2 separate regions of the Homo sapiens genome follow, and region 2 is linked to region 1. The links come from fine-mapping of genetic effects on gene expression. Tissue or cell type: lung. Region 1 holds a variant in brackets; the other region holds the start of a gene. All regions are shown on one strand. Distances are from middle to middle.

What was found. PIP is the estimated chance that this variant, and not a neighbour inherited with it, causes the effect.
Region 2: it holds the start of SCPEP1, and the variant in region 1 is fine-mapped to the expression of SCPEP1 in lung (TOPMed, PIP 0.98).

The regions. Positions count from the first base shown.
Region 1 is chr17:56,924,867-56,932,971 of GRCh38, reverse strand. No RefSeq gene overlaps it. Among named protein-coding and RNA genes, the nearest start is that of TRIM25, 15 kb to the right of the region's middle. RefSeq lists an enhancer at 7,410-7,944. The variant G/A (reference allele first, on the strand shown) is at 4,694.
Region 2 is chr17:56,974,241-56,982,345 of GRCh38, reverse strand. SCPEP1 (serine carboxypeptidase 1) reads right to left here and starts at 4,215. Exons shown (of 13, transcript NM_021626.3): 1 at 4,111-4,215; 2 at 1,116-1,264. The coding sequence starts at 4,186. It overlaps LOC105371836 (a long non-coding RNA gene), which reads right to left. Exons shown (of 4, transcript XR_934875.4): 4 at 6,339-6,597. RefSeq lists a silencer at 4,273-4,332.

The DNA.
Region 1 (8,105 bases):
GCTGTAGAGCTCAAAGTCTTGGAATGCAGGTAATGTGAGCCATTTGAGCATACCAGTGCTTTGCAACAGAGCAGTTGGTTTAGGGGCAAGGAATTAGTAGTTTAGGACCAGAATGCCCTGACCAGCCCTGACTATCCCTACCATCATGTTGGCCTGGCCACCATCAGCATAGGAGAAGCCATCACTGCCACTGTGGCCCCAGATGGAGACCCACAGCTGGAGACAAGAAAATTATCACAAGGAAGCTTTGGAGAGTAGAAATGACAGTAGCTATGTGCCAGCTGTTTTTCCAAGCACTTTACAGGTATTAATTCATTTACATAACTTAGGAGATAGGTACTGTTATTTTCTCCCTTTCACAGAAGAGGAAACTGAGGCACAGAGGTTAAACTCCTTGCCTATGAATACAGTGAATGAAAGAGCCTGATTCAAACACAGGTTGTCTTCTCCAGAACTTGTACTCAACCACTATGTCCCATAAAGAAACAGGTGCAGAATTAAGTGAAAAAGTAAATTATAGCACATTATATACTTACAGAGTTTATTTCTCATTTGAATTTTAAAAGGAAGCTCCTTGGGTGTGGTGGTATGCCTGTAGTCCTAGCTACTTGGGAGGCTGAGGTGGGAGAATCACTTGAGCCTGGGAGGTTGAGGCTGCAGTGAGCTGTCACCATGTCACTGCACTTCAGCCTGAGTGACAAGAGTGAGACTTTTTCCAAAAAAAAAAAAAGGCTCCTGATGTAGGATATGGATAAAAATGTTCTGGAAGGACATGCATGAAACGTAATAATAGTCACTGACTGCTCTGCAGAGGGACTGATGGGTAAGGAGCTGCTGCTTTTTTTTTTTTGAGACATCCGGGCTGGAGTGCAGTGGCACTATCTCGGCTCACTGCAACCTCTGCCTCCCAGGTTCATGCGATTCTCCTGCCTCAGCCTCCTGAATAGCTAAGATTACAGGCATGCACCACCACGCTTGACTAATTTTTGTATTTTTAGTAGAAATAGGGTTTCACCACATTGGCCAGGCTGGTCATGAACTCTTGACCTCAAGTGGTCCACACGCCTCAGCCTCCCAAAGTGCTGGAATTACAGGCAAGAGCCACTGTGCCTGGCCATACAACTTTACAAAAGCACAGCTTAGTTTTTATTGACTCCAAATTATGAAAAATGGGGAAAAAGGAAAAATAATGGAAACATTATTTTGAAGAGTTGTAGCTAAGAAAAATTAGAATTCAGTCCAAACTGTAAAAAATAATAAAAATGAAAAATATTAGGCAAGATTAGAATCTAGCAACATGTGTACTATAGTTTTTGAAACAATTTTTCTCTCTCCAGTTTCCCATTTTTACTAAAGACAGATCATTATGGGACTGATTTGCATTATTATACTTGGCCTAATTATTTGTATATAGTGCAGCAAGGATAATTTTTTTTTACATAGGCTTTTAAATTGGCTTTGATGGAACTTTGTTCCATAGAAGGAATCTCAGATAAGACTTTTTAAAAGCTGAACGTGGCCATGGATTTGTACCATCAAATACCTATGAGTTGGGTGATTCCTCTCCTCTTGTGGTTCCAAGATAAACTTGGTGCTCCTGGGCCTGTCAGAAAGTGACATTCTTTACTTATCACAGGTCAGAAACCCTGTACAGGAACTGTAGACAAAGGTATGAGGCCAGTTTTTCCAAGGGGTTCCTACTGGCTCTATAAGTCAAGTTTGATTCCTTAAAGCACACCATTCCAGTCAAAGCCTTAGTAAAATAACTAGTTTCTCCAGTTGTGTCCTGTTACAAATTAAAACAGATTCTTATTGCACTTATGCAAATAACTGTATTGTCATAAGTTAAGAACACTCACAGTTTCCAAATTATGTAGAAATCAGGTAGAGAGAAACAAATAGACTCCAAATTTTGTTCATGGGTGCATACTCAATTGTTAAAAGCTGTAAATAGCTTAAAAGAAAAGTTTTCTTCATTCTGAAAAACGAAACAAAGGATCAGCAACACTTTAAGCAAAAAGTTAAAAAGATTACTTCAGACTTCTATTAGTTTAGTCTATGCAGTGAATTCCTGTTCTGCGTGATATTCATGAACATTTAAGCTCTCCATGAGTACTGAAAGTTTTTCCTTAATTCTGATGTCACAATCTCCAAAGTTATCAGAAACCTGCATTCAAGAGCACCTATTAGAGTTTTATAGCTGATTATAAAACCACCTTCTAAAGAGGACCAAAACAAGACAAAAATTGTCTGTGGATGACAAAAAGTTTTAGTGCAGCCATAGTCAAAGACACAATTGACAGGAAATCTGTCACTTCTGTGGCACGTAATACTTTAATGTAACAATTATTACTGATAACATACATTAAGTCATATCAGTATTATAGGAGTTTCCCATAATTTTGGAACATATATGACTAACATATTTATACAAATACAGCCCAAAGAAAACCAAACACCATTTCATATTTGTCAATGCTTCCTGTATAATTTTTATACCAAGTAAGCCAAATATGTCATTTTTGGACTTTAGGGAACCTATTAATATCTTAAAGAGTTACTTAGGTCAGAAAGAGATAATTTATCATTTAATTTTGGAAACTTTGTCAAATACCAAAAGTTTAAAACACTTGATATTACAAAATAGGATCCCAGGCCATTGTAAAATAAGTCATTCATTTAACCAAAGTAATAATTCAAAGATTTTTTAAAAAGGCAAAAACCTTCATTCTTTGAGACAGGAGACTTAATTTTCCAAATGATAAGCCCTAATAAAAACGGCATGAAGACAATTAAATTTTTTTCCAAAATTTTATAAGCAATCTATAAAATTTTTATCTTGACCATAAGATATAACTTCCATAAACCTTTATAACCTTTAATAAGGAGTTGGTTAATGCTTCAAGAAAACCTTGTTAATTTGACACAGGGGCCCATATGCTGGTCTTGCATCAGTGTGCCTTTGACATTAATGATTAATTTATAGAGAAACTGAACTTATTTTATCTCTCAAAATCAGCCCTTACAATCTCACATGCCCACCTCTTCTGCAATAGTCCCTGGGCCTTGAGGAGTTGAATAGCTTTAATTTCTGGCCCTGTGTCTCAGGAATGCAGTTTGTTTTGATTAGCATCTTCTATTGGGCCTGAAGATGAGGCTTTAATTGCTGCCAGTATTTAAGATTTAGCAAGACTTGGTGTTCTTTTTGGACCCAGGAGTCAAAGCCCTGTAACTCAATGTCACAAGTACTTTAAAAGGGCATACAGAGAGATACACAGATGTAATAACCTTAATTTAAACAAATTTTATTCTCAATTTTTTCCCTAAGCAAACCAAAGCTTAATAATAATATGACAACTTGATCATATAAACTTTTTTTTGTTTTTATAAATCCTCTTATTGTGATTTATACAGACCATTCATGACATGCTTGGACTTTCTGGTTTGTCTTGAACATCCCTTTCTTAAACAACCAGTTATTTTACTTTAGGACTAAATTTACCACACAAGATTCTTTCTCATATGAAATTATTTCTCTTTAAGCTTTTTTAAATGATTACCAAAAAACCCTCTTTATTTTCATAACTTTCTTTACATCTCTCTTATTTCTTTGTTCCTTTTACCTTGTTTTATACATGACCTTTAAATAAACTTTAAATCAGATAAAAATTGTTCACCTTTTTTAAAAGGACACTTTTTTTTTTTTGAGATGGGGAGTTTTGCTCTTGTTGCCCAGGCTGGAGTGCAATGGCGTGATCCCTGCTCACCGCAACCTCCGCCTCCCGGGTTCAAGTGATTCTCCTGCCTCAGCCTCCCGGGTAGCTGGGATAACAGGCACCTGCCGCCACGCCCAGCTAATTGTTGTATTTTTAGTAGAGACAGGGTTTCACCATGTTTGCCAGGCTGGTCTTGAACTCCTGACCTCAGGTGATCCACCTGCCTCGGCCTCCCAAAGTGCTGGGATTACAGGTGTGAGCCACCCTGCCTGGCCAGGATACATTTTTTTAAATAGAAAGAATGTTTTCCTACAATATATTTTAATTGGAAAATACCCAAATAATGATATACCTATTATTTAATTTAACTTTAGATTCTAAATTATGACAAGTTTGTCTGCAAGTATTTATCCCATTACATTTATCTATTTTAATTGTTTACCCAGATTTATGAAAACTGCAATAGTCATCATTTAAAGTTATGAAACTTGCCATTGCAAAATTCTGAGACAGTGAAAAATATATGACCTAATGGACTCCATCTTGCTTCTAACCTCCAAGCTGTCCTTGTTCATTCCTGAACTTTGGGAGTAACTTAGTTTATAGTTTCACTTTGAAACGAAGATGATAACAGTCCTTTCCGAAAACACACCTTACTGCCTGTGGACTAGACCACCTAAAGCCACAAGATAGAAGTATGGTAATCTTATTAAATTCAAGATGCAGCTATTTTTATTAAATCAATGTCAGTGTCTTATTTATTAAAGACGACATGAGCAAAGGTCATTATGTTTTGGGCTGGCTTTATAGTTTTGTAACCCCCATGTCAAATTTTGACACCTTGTAGTATTTGGCAGGGATAAGTATGAAATTGCTTGGTCAATAAATGCAAACAAAAAGATGTATGCTGGCAATTCTTAAGACATTTCTAATATTAAATTACCAATAATTAAATTTATTTATTTATTTTTTGAGAC[G/A]GAGTCTGGCTCTGTCGCCCAGGATGGAGTGCAGTGGTGCGATCTCGGCTCACTGCAGGCTCTGCCTCCCGCGTTCACGCCATCCTCCTGCCTCAGTCTCCCGAGTAGCTGGGACTACAGGTGCCCACCACCATGCCTGGCTAATTTTTTGTATTTTTAGTAGAGACGGGGTTTCACTGTGTTAGCCAGGATGGTCTCGATCTCCTGACCTTGTGATCTGCCCGCCTTGGCCTCCCAAAGTGCTGGGATTACAGACGTGAGCCACCGCGCCTGACCATTACCAATAATTTTAAAACTAGCTTATTTATTAAAGATTTTACTTGGCTGGGCACAGTGGCTCACGCCTGTAATCCCAGCACTTTGGGAGGCCGAGGCAGGCGGATCACAAGGTCAGGAGATCGAGACCATCCTGGCTGACATGTTGAAACCCCGTCTCTACTAAAAATACAAAAAATTAGCCAGGCATGGTGGCAGGCACCTGTAGTCCCAGCTACTCGGGAGGCTGAGGCAGGAGGATGGCGTGAACACGGGAGGCAGAGCCTGCAGTGAGCTGAGATTGTGCCACTGCACTCCAACCTGGGTGACAGAGCGAGACTCTCTTTCAAAAAAAAAAAAAAAAGATTGTACTTACTTAAGGTATGTAAACTTGAAAAAGCATTTGACTAGTCTTTTCTTTTTTCCTGATAAAGTATTTGATTCAAACACTTTTATTTTCTTAAGACAATTAATTAGAGCTCTTTTATATATTTTCAGCAGTGAAACATTGTGTACACAACACACACATACATAGAGATATTAGGCATGCAAATAGAAGCACATTTTATAGATTCATAAAAACCTGTTTTTTTCTATTTCAGACTTTCAGATTCTTGATAACCTGTTTCACAGCCCTAGGCAGTTGTCAGTTAAGTAGCCTTAAATTTGCATATTAAAGGAAACAACTCAGTTGAAAATCAAATAGCAAAATTTACATCATAAGGTATGGAGAGAAAAAGTCTGGTGTGCTAGAGGAAGATTAAAGATGGATGCCAGATCAAACATAAAATTATAAAAACGTATCATAGGATTGTACAAGGAGACCAATTTTATTTAGATAGGTCTTACCTGTCTTTTACCTGGATCTCTGGGCAGAGCCCACACTGAATCCTGGGTCTCCAAAAAGGGAGAATTACTATTAGGCTAAACCACGTGATGTTTTTACAGGGGACTTAAAAAATTTTTTTTTGTAACAAAGACATTTTTAAGTGTCTACACCCCATGCTTCTTTAAAAACCCAAGAGTAGCCTCTGTTGCAATAACTATTTTAGTCAATAAATCAGGTAACACCATACAAAAGCAAGCAGTTTAAGGGCTTAGACAAACTTGTCTGTTTACACTGTTGGGATTCCATAAGGAAAAACAGGTTTCTCCCCTAAAGGGAGTCTGGTGCCTTCTCCGTTTGCTTTAAGGAACTCCAGGCTATTATAAGCTATTTTAGGTCCCTCATACAGCAGAGGGTGCAAGAGAAAGGAGAGATAGCAGAAGTAAATGAAGAATTCAGTCAACTGAGAAGAAAAAACTTTTGTTCAAAAAAGAGACAAGGTCCTAGAAGAAAAACAAAACAAAAATATGAAGGCCTTTGAAATATAAACACACATATGCACAGATACACACACATCTTGGATGTTAGCTTTAAATTAATGGTGACTTTTAACTATTGAGCTCCTTTAAAAAAATCTTTTTAAATCTTATTACCATATTTCAGTGAGGACAATTGCTGCTATTTCAGAAGTACAGCCATTGCTCTTTCAGTTCAGCCTGGCTAGCAAAATGGTGGCCTTGTTATGTAAATAAAGCCCCTTAGTAGTCAAAATTTTTCCACATTTTTTTTCTTCTGCTGGCTGTTTTTCTCCCCTCACCACACCAGCTGGTGGTTAATCTTAAATTTAGCCAAGAGAAACCCCAATTCAGTTACTTACCTAGGGATGGGTCTCAGGCTGAAGACAGCTCTCTACCATCCTAGAAGCAGGAAAAAAATAACCTCATCTTCCCTGTTGTAAGTGAGCTGAAACTCCATAAAGGAGTTACCTGCTTTCCATCGTCATGGAAGCAGGAAAAACTTGCCTTCCTTGTGTTGGAAGCAAGTAAAACTCCAAAAAAGAGTTGCACAGCAAAATAAACTTTAGATCTCAATCAAATATTGGGAAATCAGAGATTCTCTGGAGGGTGTGCTTCCAGGCCTCAGCAAATTGTCCTATTGGTTTGAGCCATAAAGATAGCTCAAGCTGGTGCCAAGCACCAATAGGAGATTTGTCAAAGGTCAGGGGCACCTCCACGTAGAATCCCTCTGTGGTTACCAAAATGTGAACTTCGAAAATCTGAGACAAGTCTCAGTTAATTTAGAAAGTTTTGGTCGGGCGCGGTGGCTCACGCCTGTAATCCCAGCACTTTGGGAGGCCGAGGCGGGCGGATCATGAGGTCAAGAGATCGAGACCATCCTGGCTAACACGGAGAAACCCTGTCTCTACTAAAAATACAAAAAATTAGCTGGGCGTGGTGGCGGGCGCCTGTAGTCCCAGCTACTAGGGAGGCTGAGGCAGGAGAATGGCGTGAACCCGGGAGGCGGAGCTTGCAGTGAGCCGAGAGCGCGCCACTGCACTCCAGCCTGGGTGACAGAGTGAGACTCCATCTCAAAAAAAAAAAAAAAAAAAAAAAAAAAAGAAAGTTTATTTTGCCAAGGTTGAGGATGCACACCTGTGACATGGCCTCAGGTGGTCCTGACTATGTATGCCCAATGTAGTCAGAGCACAGTTTGGTTTTACACATTTTAGGGAGACAGAAGACATCAATCAACATATGTAAGATGAATATTGCTTCAGTCTGGAAAGGTGGGACAACTCTAGGTGGGGAGGGAACTTCCAAGTCATAGGTAGGTAAGAGACAAATGGTAGCATTCTTTTCAATTTCTGATTAGCCCCTTCAAAGGAGGCATTCAGATACGCATTATCTCAGTGAGCAGAGGGGTGTCTGAATAGAATGGGAGGCAGGTTTGCCTTAAGCAGTTCCCAGCTTGACTTTTCCCTTTAGCTTAGTGATTTTTGGGCCAGCCCCAAGATATTTTCCTTTCACAGTGTGTAGTGGCATCTCATCGTTGTCTTAATATGTCCCATCCCAATGACATATGATATGATGTTGAGCATCTTTTCATATGTTTATTTGCCATCTGGATATCTTCTTTAGTGAGGTGTCTGTTCAGACCTCTTGCCCATTTTTTAAATGGTTGTTTTATTGTAGAGTTTTAAGAGGTTTTTGTTTTTGTTTTTTGAGATGGGGCTCTTGCTCTATCACCCAGGCTGGAGTGCAGTGGTGAAATCCTAGCTCACTGCAGCCTTGAACTCCTGGGTTTAAGCAATACTCCCACCTCAGCCTCCTG
Region 2 (8,105 bases), 49 kb before region 1:
GAGGCAAAACCCAGGTGGTGGGAGGCTGCTTATAAATACCAGCATTGTTGGAAGACGTCCCAGTAGCATCCTATGGAGGTGAGCACCAGGGTCCCTATTTACTGATGAGGGGCCCAGGGTTCCAGCTGGGCCATGCCTACATTTTCCAGAGGCAAGACCATGTTCCTTAATTCCTCCCTGGTGGGTGGTCTTCCGGGTGGGGGTGGGCCATCTCTGGACAGATATTTCAGAAATGCCAGAAAAGAGCCTCTGCCTGTCCCTACAAATCTTTCAACCAGCTCCCTGCCTTCCATCCTACAATCAGAGCTCAAGGTTAAAATGCAAACACACTCAGGGAAAGGGGGAAGGCGCAACAGTCACACGAAGGTGCAGAAGGCTTGTAGCAGTCCCTTCAAAAGATCAGGTTTTCTGGGGGTAAGAAGTTAGGGTTCAGGAAAGGATTGTATGGAGAGGAAGGGAGGGTCAGGCTACCTCAGGTCTTTGCTTTGGAACCTTCCATAACACTTTCTTTTCTTTTTTCTTTTGAGATAGGGTCTTGCTCTGTCGCCCAGGCTGGAGCGCAGTGGCACGATCTCAGCTCACTGCTACCTCCGCCTCCCGGGTCCAAGCAATTCTCATGCCTCAACCATCTGAGTAGCTGGGATTATAGGTATGTGCTACCATGCCTGGATAATTTTTGTATTAAATATTTTTAGTAGAGACAGCGTTTCACTATGTCGGCCAGCCTGGTCTCGAACTCCTGGCCTCGTATGATCCACCCACCTCGGCCTCCCAAAGTTCTGGGATTACAGACATGAGCCACTGTGCCCGGCCTCAAAACACTTTCTATCACTATGTATTCAAATGTATCATCAGGAGTTTTCAGTGAGCCTTCTTGTGACCGTCTGGAAATATAAAGAGACTCTGGCAAAAGGCTAGAACCCCCTCGCCCTCTGATTTAGCCTCCTTGGCTATACCATTGCCTCAGCCTACCTCAGAAGCACGCCGAACCCCCAGGTCACACTGCTGGACCAAATCCGCCCTTCACTGCTGAGACATCAGCCCAAAAAGCAAGCAAAGAGCCACACAGAGGAGACTTGGCTTTGACCTCAGGCCAGGCTGGGAAGCTACTTTACCTGAAGCCACATGACCAGGGGCAGTTCTGAGAAGTTCTTGCAGGAGTTGGTGGCATAATAGAGCCACCAGAACATGTAGGCATCCTTGCGGACCGTCACATAATCCCATACTTCCTTGCCCTCCTCTGTGGGCCAGTCAATGACAGCTCCTGAAACAGAAGTTCAATTTCACTCTCCAGAAGAGTGCCTAATGTACAGGTAAATTCCAAGCCTGGTAGAGACAGCCATGCTAGGCTAGAGATGATTTGTTTTATAGTTTGGTAATTTAGCCACCCCAGTACATTGCAGGAATAAGGAAAAAACCTCGGCTATGAAAAAAGAAACCAAACTTAACAGCGGCATAGGAGGCCAGGGGCTTTCACTTTTTCCTCTACACTTTTCTGTAATGTTTGGATTTTTAACAATAAATATGAAACACTTTTTTTTTTTTTTTTTTTTTTTTGATACGAAGTCTCGCTCTTGTTGCCCAGGCTGGAATGCAATGGCGCAATCTCGGCTCACCGCAACCTCTGCCTTCCGGGTTCAAGCGATTCTCCTGCCTCAGCCTTCCAAGTAGCTAGGATTACAGGCATGCACCACCACGCCTGGCTAATTTTGTATTTTTAGTAGAGATGGGGTTTCTCCATGTTGGTCAGGCTGGTCTCGCACTCCTGACCTCAGGTGATCTGCCCGCCTAGGCCTACCAAAGTGCTGGGATTACAGGAAATACTTTTATAATTCTGTAAAAACAAGAGAGATTTATATTTTGAGTAAAAAAGTAAAAATCTCAGAATGCAATATACTGGTTTTTATATCGTATTTAATACATGAGTAAGACACCAGGCTTGGTGGCTCACTCCTGTAATCCCAACACTTTGGAAGGCCAAGACAGGCTGATAGCTTGTGCATAGGAGTTCAAAACCAGTCTAAGCAACATAGCAACACCCCATCTCTACAAAAAATGCAAAAATTAGCTGGGCATTGTGGCATATGCCTGTGGTCCCAGCTACTCAGGAGACAGAGGTAGGAGAATCGCTTGAGCCCAGTAGGTTGAGGCTGCAGTGAGCTGTGATCACACCAGTGCACTCCAGCCTAGGTGACAGAGGGAGATCCTATCTCAAAAAAACAAAAAACCAACCAACCAAACAAACAAAAAACATGAGTGAAGAGGCATCACAAATTAGTGGGGCTGAGAATATTCAATATACAGTAATGGAGCAACAATTACCTTTTTTGGAGAAAAAAAGAGAAATTTAGGTCCTCTCAACACTATAAACGAAATAAGTTCCATGAGGATCAAGCAATTAAATTTTAAACTTTAAACATTAAAAAAATACAAAAATATAGTTAAATATATTTCTAATGTCTGGATGAGGAAAGAATCTAAGCAAACCCCAGAGACTGTACAAAAGAAACAATGATGGAGGTGAGAACAGAAACTTGTTATATTTCTATACAACAAAATTTCTGTAAATCAAAAATAAAAAGGCAAACAGCAAGGAAAGAGCTACAACAAATATGAAAAAGGGCAATTTTCCTAACTCATGTAGATGATTTTTTTAAACTGAACGATATATATCTGTGTATGTGTGTTTAATATACGTATCCTATAATCCCCTAACTCCAATTTTCCTTACTTAACTTTTCTAGCATCCACAAAATATGTTTTAGAAAAGAGTAGGCTAAATACATTTTCTTTGTCACTTTTTGCTAACGTAACAATTTCCAAGTTATAGCATCTTTTTTTTTTTCCTCCAAAACCACTCTGGGAAAAAAAAAAGTAGAGGGGCTGTTGTTAAAAGATGATGGGGGGGATCCCCTCGGTGACTGGAGTTTTCTGCCTTCTATTTCCTCCCTTCTCAAATTTCAAGCCCCATTGGTCAGTAAAAGAACACTGGTCCCAACAGCTAAAGAGACAGGAGTAGAGAGGAAGACAATGAGACAACGTCTTGTAAATAAGAAAGAGCCAGGGTGGTGGCCTGTGTCTGCAGTCCGGGCTACTTGGGATGCTGAAGTAGGAAGATCACTTGAGTCAGGCAGTTCCAGACCAGCCTGGGCAACATAGTGAGACCCTGACTCAAAACAAAACAACAATGAAGATTAAGAAAACCAGAAAGTGTCCTGAGGAGCAAAACAGATGACTAAAACATTACAGACTTAGCTATAAGGTTCTATATACAAGTAACACACGATTATATTGTCCTTGACAATAACAGATAAGGCTGCGCTCCCTTGAGAATGACAGATAAGGCGCAGGTACCTTTTGACCTAACCCCAGGCACTTCTCCCTTGCCTGGCAGTGACTACTGGTAAAATTGGCAGAGCTACTTATTTTACAAAATCTCCCAGACACTCGCCTAAGGGCCAGATGATCCCCATTTTAGAAAAGGAAAACAAAACTGTTCAACAACTTGCCTAAGGTCACAAGGCAAGCTTGTGGCCAGTTCCAATTCTCAGTGCTTGCTTCAGACTAGGAGAGGTTTTGCTGAAAATCAATTTGCAAGTCATCCTATTAAACACAAATCTGTTTTTTGCCAAAAAAGATCGCTGTGGGGGAAGATGTTATCTTGTTTGTTTTGATCAAGAAAAGAAAGGGCCTTATCTCAATGAAATGTCCCATTCGTGGTAGGATGTAAGGGTACTTTTGACCGCAGATTTCAGCTTAAAATAAAACGACCTTATATCCTCATTTAGCAGCCAATCATGGCCTTTGAATCGGGGAAACCTCATTGACCAGCAGTTTCCCCAAATCATACATTTCTGCACACAGCTTCTATCTAGGCGTAGGAGAGAACGGAAGCACTCAGACCACCCAGAGCCAGAAAAGGACAAAAAAAGCACTTTGAATTTTTTAAGGAAAAAAAAAAAAAAGAGTGAGATTCAAAAGCAATATAATTACACAAGGTAAGAACCGGGGAAAAGAGACATGTTTTCAAAAGCACAAACCCAGTAACAAACTCTCACGCCTGGAGAAAAAAGAGGCATGGCAGCTGGTGCGCCTCTTGCTTGAACCTACCTGCGTTCAGGCCCAGCAGCAGCGGCAGCAGCAGCAACCACCGCGGGACGGGAGAGCGCCGCAGTGCCAGCTCCATGACAAGTACCGCACGGCAGCATCAGCAACAGGCTGGACCCGGCGCCCCATCACGTGACGGAGGCGGACGGGGCGGGTCGGGGGCGGGGCCTGCGGGTCGGGGGCGGGGCCTGAATGGGCATGGGGCGGGGCCTGGGCGGACCCGGCAGCTTGCTGAGACCCGCACGCCCTCTGCCCGGCAAGCCCACCAGGACCCCTGCAAATGCGCAGGGGCCGTTCTGTCCGCCTGGCCAGGTTCTCTGTCATTTTAGGGAGAGTATTTCGGAAAGGAGACATTTGATGCAGATGTTGGATTTAGGTTGTGTGACCGGATCGAAATACTAAAGGGAATAACCACCGCCCTTTCTACCCCTCCCATCTCTTCCTTCCCTCAGCAAAAGAACCGACGTTTTCCAACACTGCTACATCTGCGAAGTCAGATTAAGCCAGCTGGTCGTTGGCAAACAGCGGGGTTTCATTTTCAGATATGTATTTTTTAAATTATTTTTCTTTTAAAGTTATGTATGTTATAAACGTTTTGGAAATATGAACAAAAAAGTTATACATAACTATTGTTGGCATTTTTTCCCATAGTCTTTTACGTCATTTTAAAAAACACTAATAAAGATTTTTATTTTTTTTTTCTTTTTTGATAATTTGTCATTAGTATTACTCTGTGTTACGTTATCTTCACAGCAGTCATTTTAAAGAGAGAATCGAGGGTCTGGGGACGGGAAAGGAAGAAAAAGTGGATGACAGAGCTGTTTTCCTCTGTGTGTGTGTGTGTGTGTGTGTGTGTGTCTGTCTGTCTGTCTGAAGGTCATTTTTACGTTAGAGGGTACTGAATAACTCACCTCACAGCTAGGAGACAAGCTACAGCAGGGGCTGTAGGAGAGGCTACTTCTAAATACTGCTTCAAAAGTACATGTAACAAAAAGCAAAAAACAAATCAAAGTACATGTGGCCACTTCTCCTCTTTCCCTGCTCCTTTCTCCCTCCCCTCGCCCTTGACCCCCATAAATGGAAGTGCTTTTTACTCTGCAGCCATTGTCTGGACAGAGCCTTGACCCCGCCCTGCCTGTGAGGTGCCCCTGCACTGAAAGCTGCGGCAGAGAAAAATATGCCGCCGGGTTCTGTCATGCTTTAAGCATGGGATGGTCCCGAATGCATAAAATCCATAATGCCTGGGCAACATATTGAGACCCCCTCTCTACAAAAAATAACAAAAATTAACTGATGTGGTGACACGCGCCTGCTGTCCAAGCTACTCAGAAGGCTGAGGTGGGAGGATCACTTGAGCCCAGGAGCTCCAGGCTGCAGTGAGCAGGTGTTCCATGCCATATGGGAGATACATAAAAGTACATGCTTAGTTAAAAATAAATAACTATCTAGCAAACTTTTCCTGTCTGAAGCTTCCAAGTTGGTCTGTATCACTAGGGCTTGAAATACACTTACCCTTCCACTGCAGTCAGAATTTTAGGGTTTCAATTTTTTTGCCACAAAAATAACACTACAGCCCAGGGCGCAAGGTGGCTCACACCTGTAATCCCAGCACTTTGGGAGGCCGAGGTGGGCAGATTACTTGAGGTCGGGGGTTTGAGACCAGCCTGGCCAACATAGTGAAACCCCATTTCTACAAAAATACAAAAATTAGCTGGGTGTGGTGGCACTTGCTTGTGGTCTTAACTACTCGGGAGGCTAAGGCATGAGAATCGCTTGAACCCAGGAGGTGGAGGTTGCAGTGAGCCAAGATGGTGCCACTGCACTCCAGCCTGGGTGACAGAGTAAGACCCCATCTCACACACGCACAAAAAAATTGTGCATTTTATAATACGCTAATATGACTTCAAAAGGAAAAAATATAAATAAAATGTCACCTCTAGTTAATGATATTCATATTAAAGTGTTTAGGGGAAGGTGTACCAATGTATACAATTTTCTTTGAAATGTATCCAGATGCTGGCACAGTGACCTATGCCTGTAATCCAGCTCTTTGGGAGACCAAGGTGGGATGATTGATTGAGCCTAGAAGTTTGAGACCAGCCTGGACAATATAGTGAGACCATGTCTCTTAAAAAAAAAAAAAGTATCCAGAATATAAGATGGATTGATGGATAGGATGGAAAGAAGGTTGGATACATGGATAAATACATGATATCAAGTATTACAGTAACATTTTCTTTTTTCATTACAGTTTATAATCACAGGAACAAAATAAACAAAAACCACATGTAGAAACCAGATTAAAGCTTGTTATCCTTACAGGCAGTGGCGAAATTCCAATCTTCAGGGTTGGAGTGGTCTTTGTTTAAGAAAAATACCTCCTTGGTTCATTGAAGTTAGGAGTTGGGAGCTGATGGCATAGTAGCTGCAGCCAAGGCAACAAAAGATAATTGCCAAACTGTGCGGCCCAGGAGAAATTTTGTTTTGCTCCTAGGAGAGGAAAGAAGAGAGAAAGATGAAAAGAAGTGAAGGCTACATATAGAGAAAGATTAGCCAAAGAGAGTTGAGGCTGGAAGAAGAGCCAGTAGAAATTTCTCCGATGAGGAGTGGCTATGTAATCCCCCAATGGGTTCTTTTTGCCTGCTGCCCAGATAGAGCCAGCCAATTTATGAAGGCAGGGGAATTGCAATGGGGAAACAGTTTAATTCATGCAGAGCTGGCTGAAAGGAAGACTGGAGTTTTATAATTACTCAAATCAGTCTCTGAGGAGTAGTTTCAAAGACAGTTTAGGGGTAGGAGCAGAGGTGGCTAGGCAATGGATGCTTGCTGCTGATTGGTTGGGTTGGAGATGAAATCACAGGGAGTTGAAGCTGTCTTCTTGCGCGGATTTGCTTCCAGGTGGGGCCGCAGGAGCAGTTGGTAGGTCCAGGTGGAGCCAGGTGTCAGACATGCAAAAAAACCTGAAAAGATATCTCAAAAGGCTAATCTTAGGTTCTACAATAGTGATGGTGTCTGCAGGAGTAATTGGAGAAGTTGCATATTTTGTGACCTCAGGAATAATGGCTGGCAATCCTTAGCAGAATTCAGCCTCCTCTATTTTCTTAGCCTGGTGGTCATTTAGCGTAAAGTTTGGGGAAGGGCCATTATCATTTAACCTATAACCTAAATGCCTCCCAAAGTTAGCTTGGCCCAGAAGTCCAGGAATAATTAAAGGTAGCTTGAAGGCTAAAGGCAAAGGCAAGATGCCGGTTGGTGAAATCAGATCTCTCCCACTGACAAAATGTTCTCACTGACACAGTTTATGCAAAGGCTGTCAGCTACAGAACATTTTTTAAAAGTTATGCTTGTGGTTCAATTTGAAGTGGATTGCATTTCTACAATGTAAACCTGTCCTCTTGGGGCAGCTAAAAACTATAATAGGACTGGGCCAGGCGCGGTGGCTCGCGCCTATAATCCCAGCACTTTGGGAGGCCAAGGAGGGTGGATTGCCTCAGCTCAGGAGTTCCAGACCAGCCTGGGCAACATGGTGAAACTAAATTAGCCGGGTGTGGCGGCTTGTGCCTGTATTCCCAGCTACTCGGGAGGCTGAGGCAGGAGAATTGCTTAAACCCAGGAGGCAGAGGTTGCAGTGAGCCGAGATCGTGCCACTGCACTCCAGCCTGGGTGACAGAGTGAGACTCTGTCTCAAAAAAAAAAAAAAAATTATATATATATAAAATACGGCTATAAAGGAGGCAATAGGACTGGAAAAAAGATACTGGGTACTGAACCTCAAAACTGTTTTTAAAATTATATGTTTATTCTGAGAAGGGTTTGGGAGGGAGGCTAATGGAAATTGGTTGGGAGTTCCTAAAGGCCCATCCATCGAATTCTTGGTGCAGATGCTTGTGGTAAACCTTGGCATTACGTGACTGTCTTCTCATGTGTCTTCACATCATCTTCCCTTTGAGCATATCAGTCTCTGTGCACTTGTGTCAGGCAACCTAACCAGAGTGACT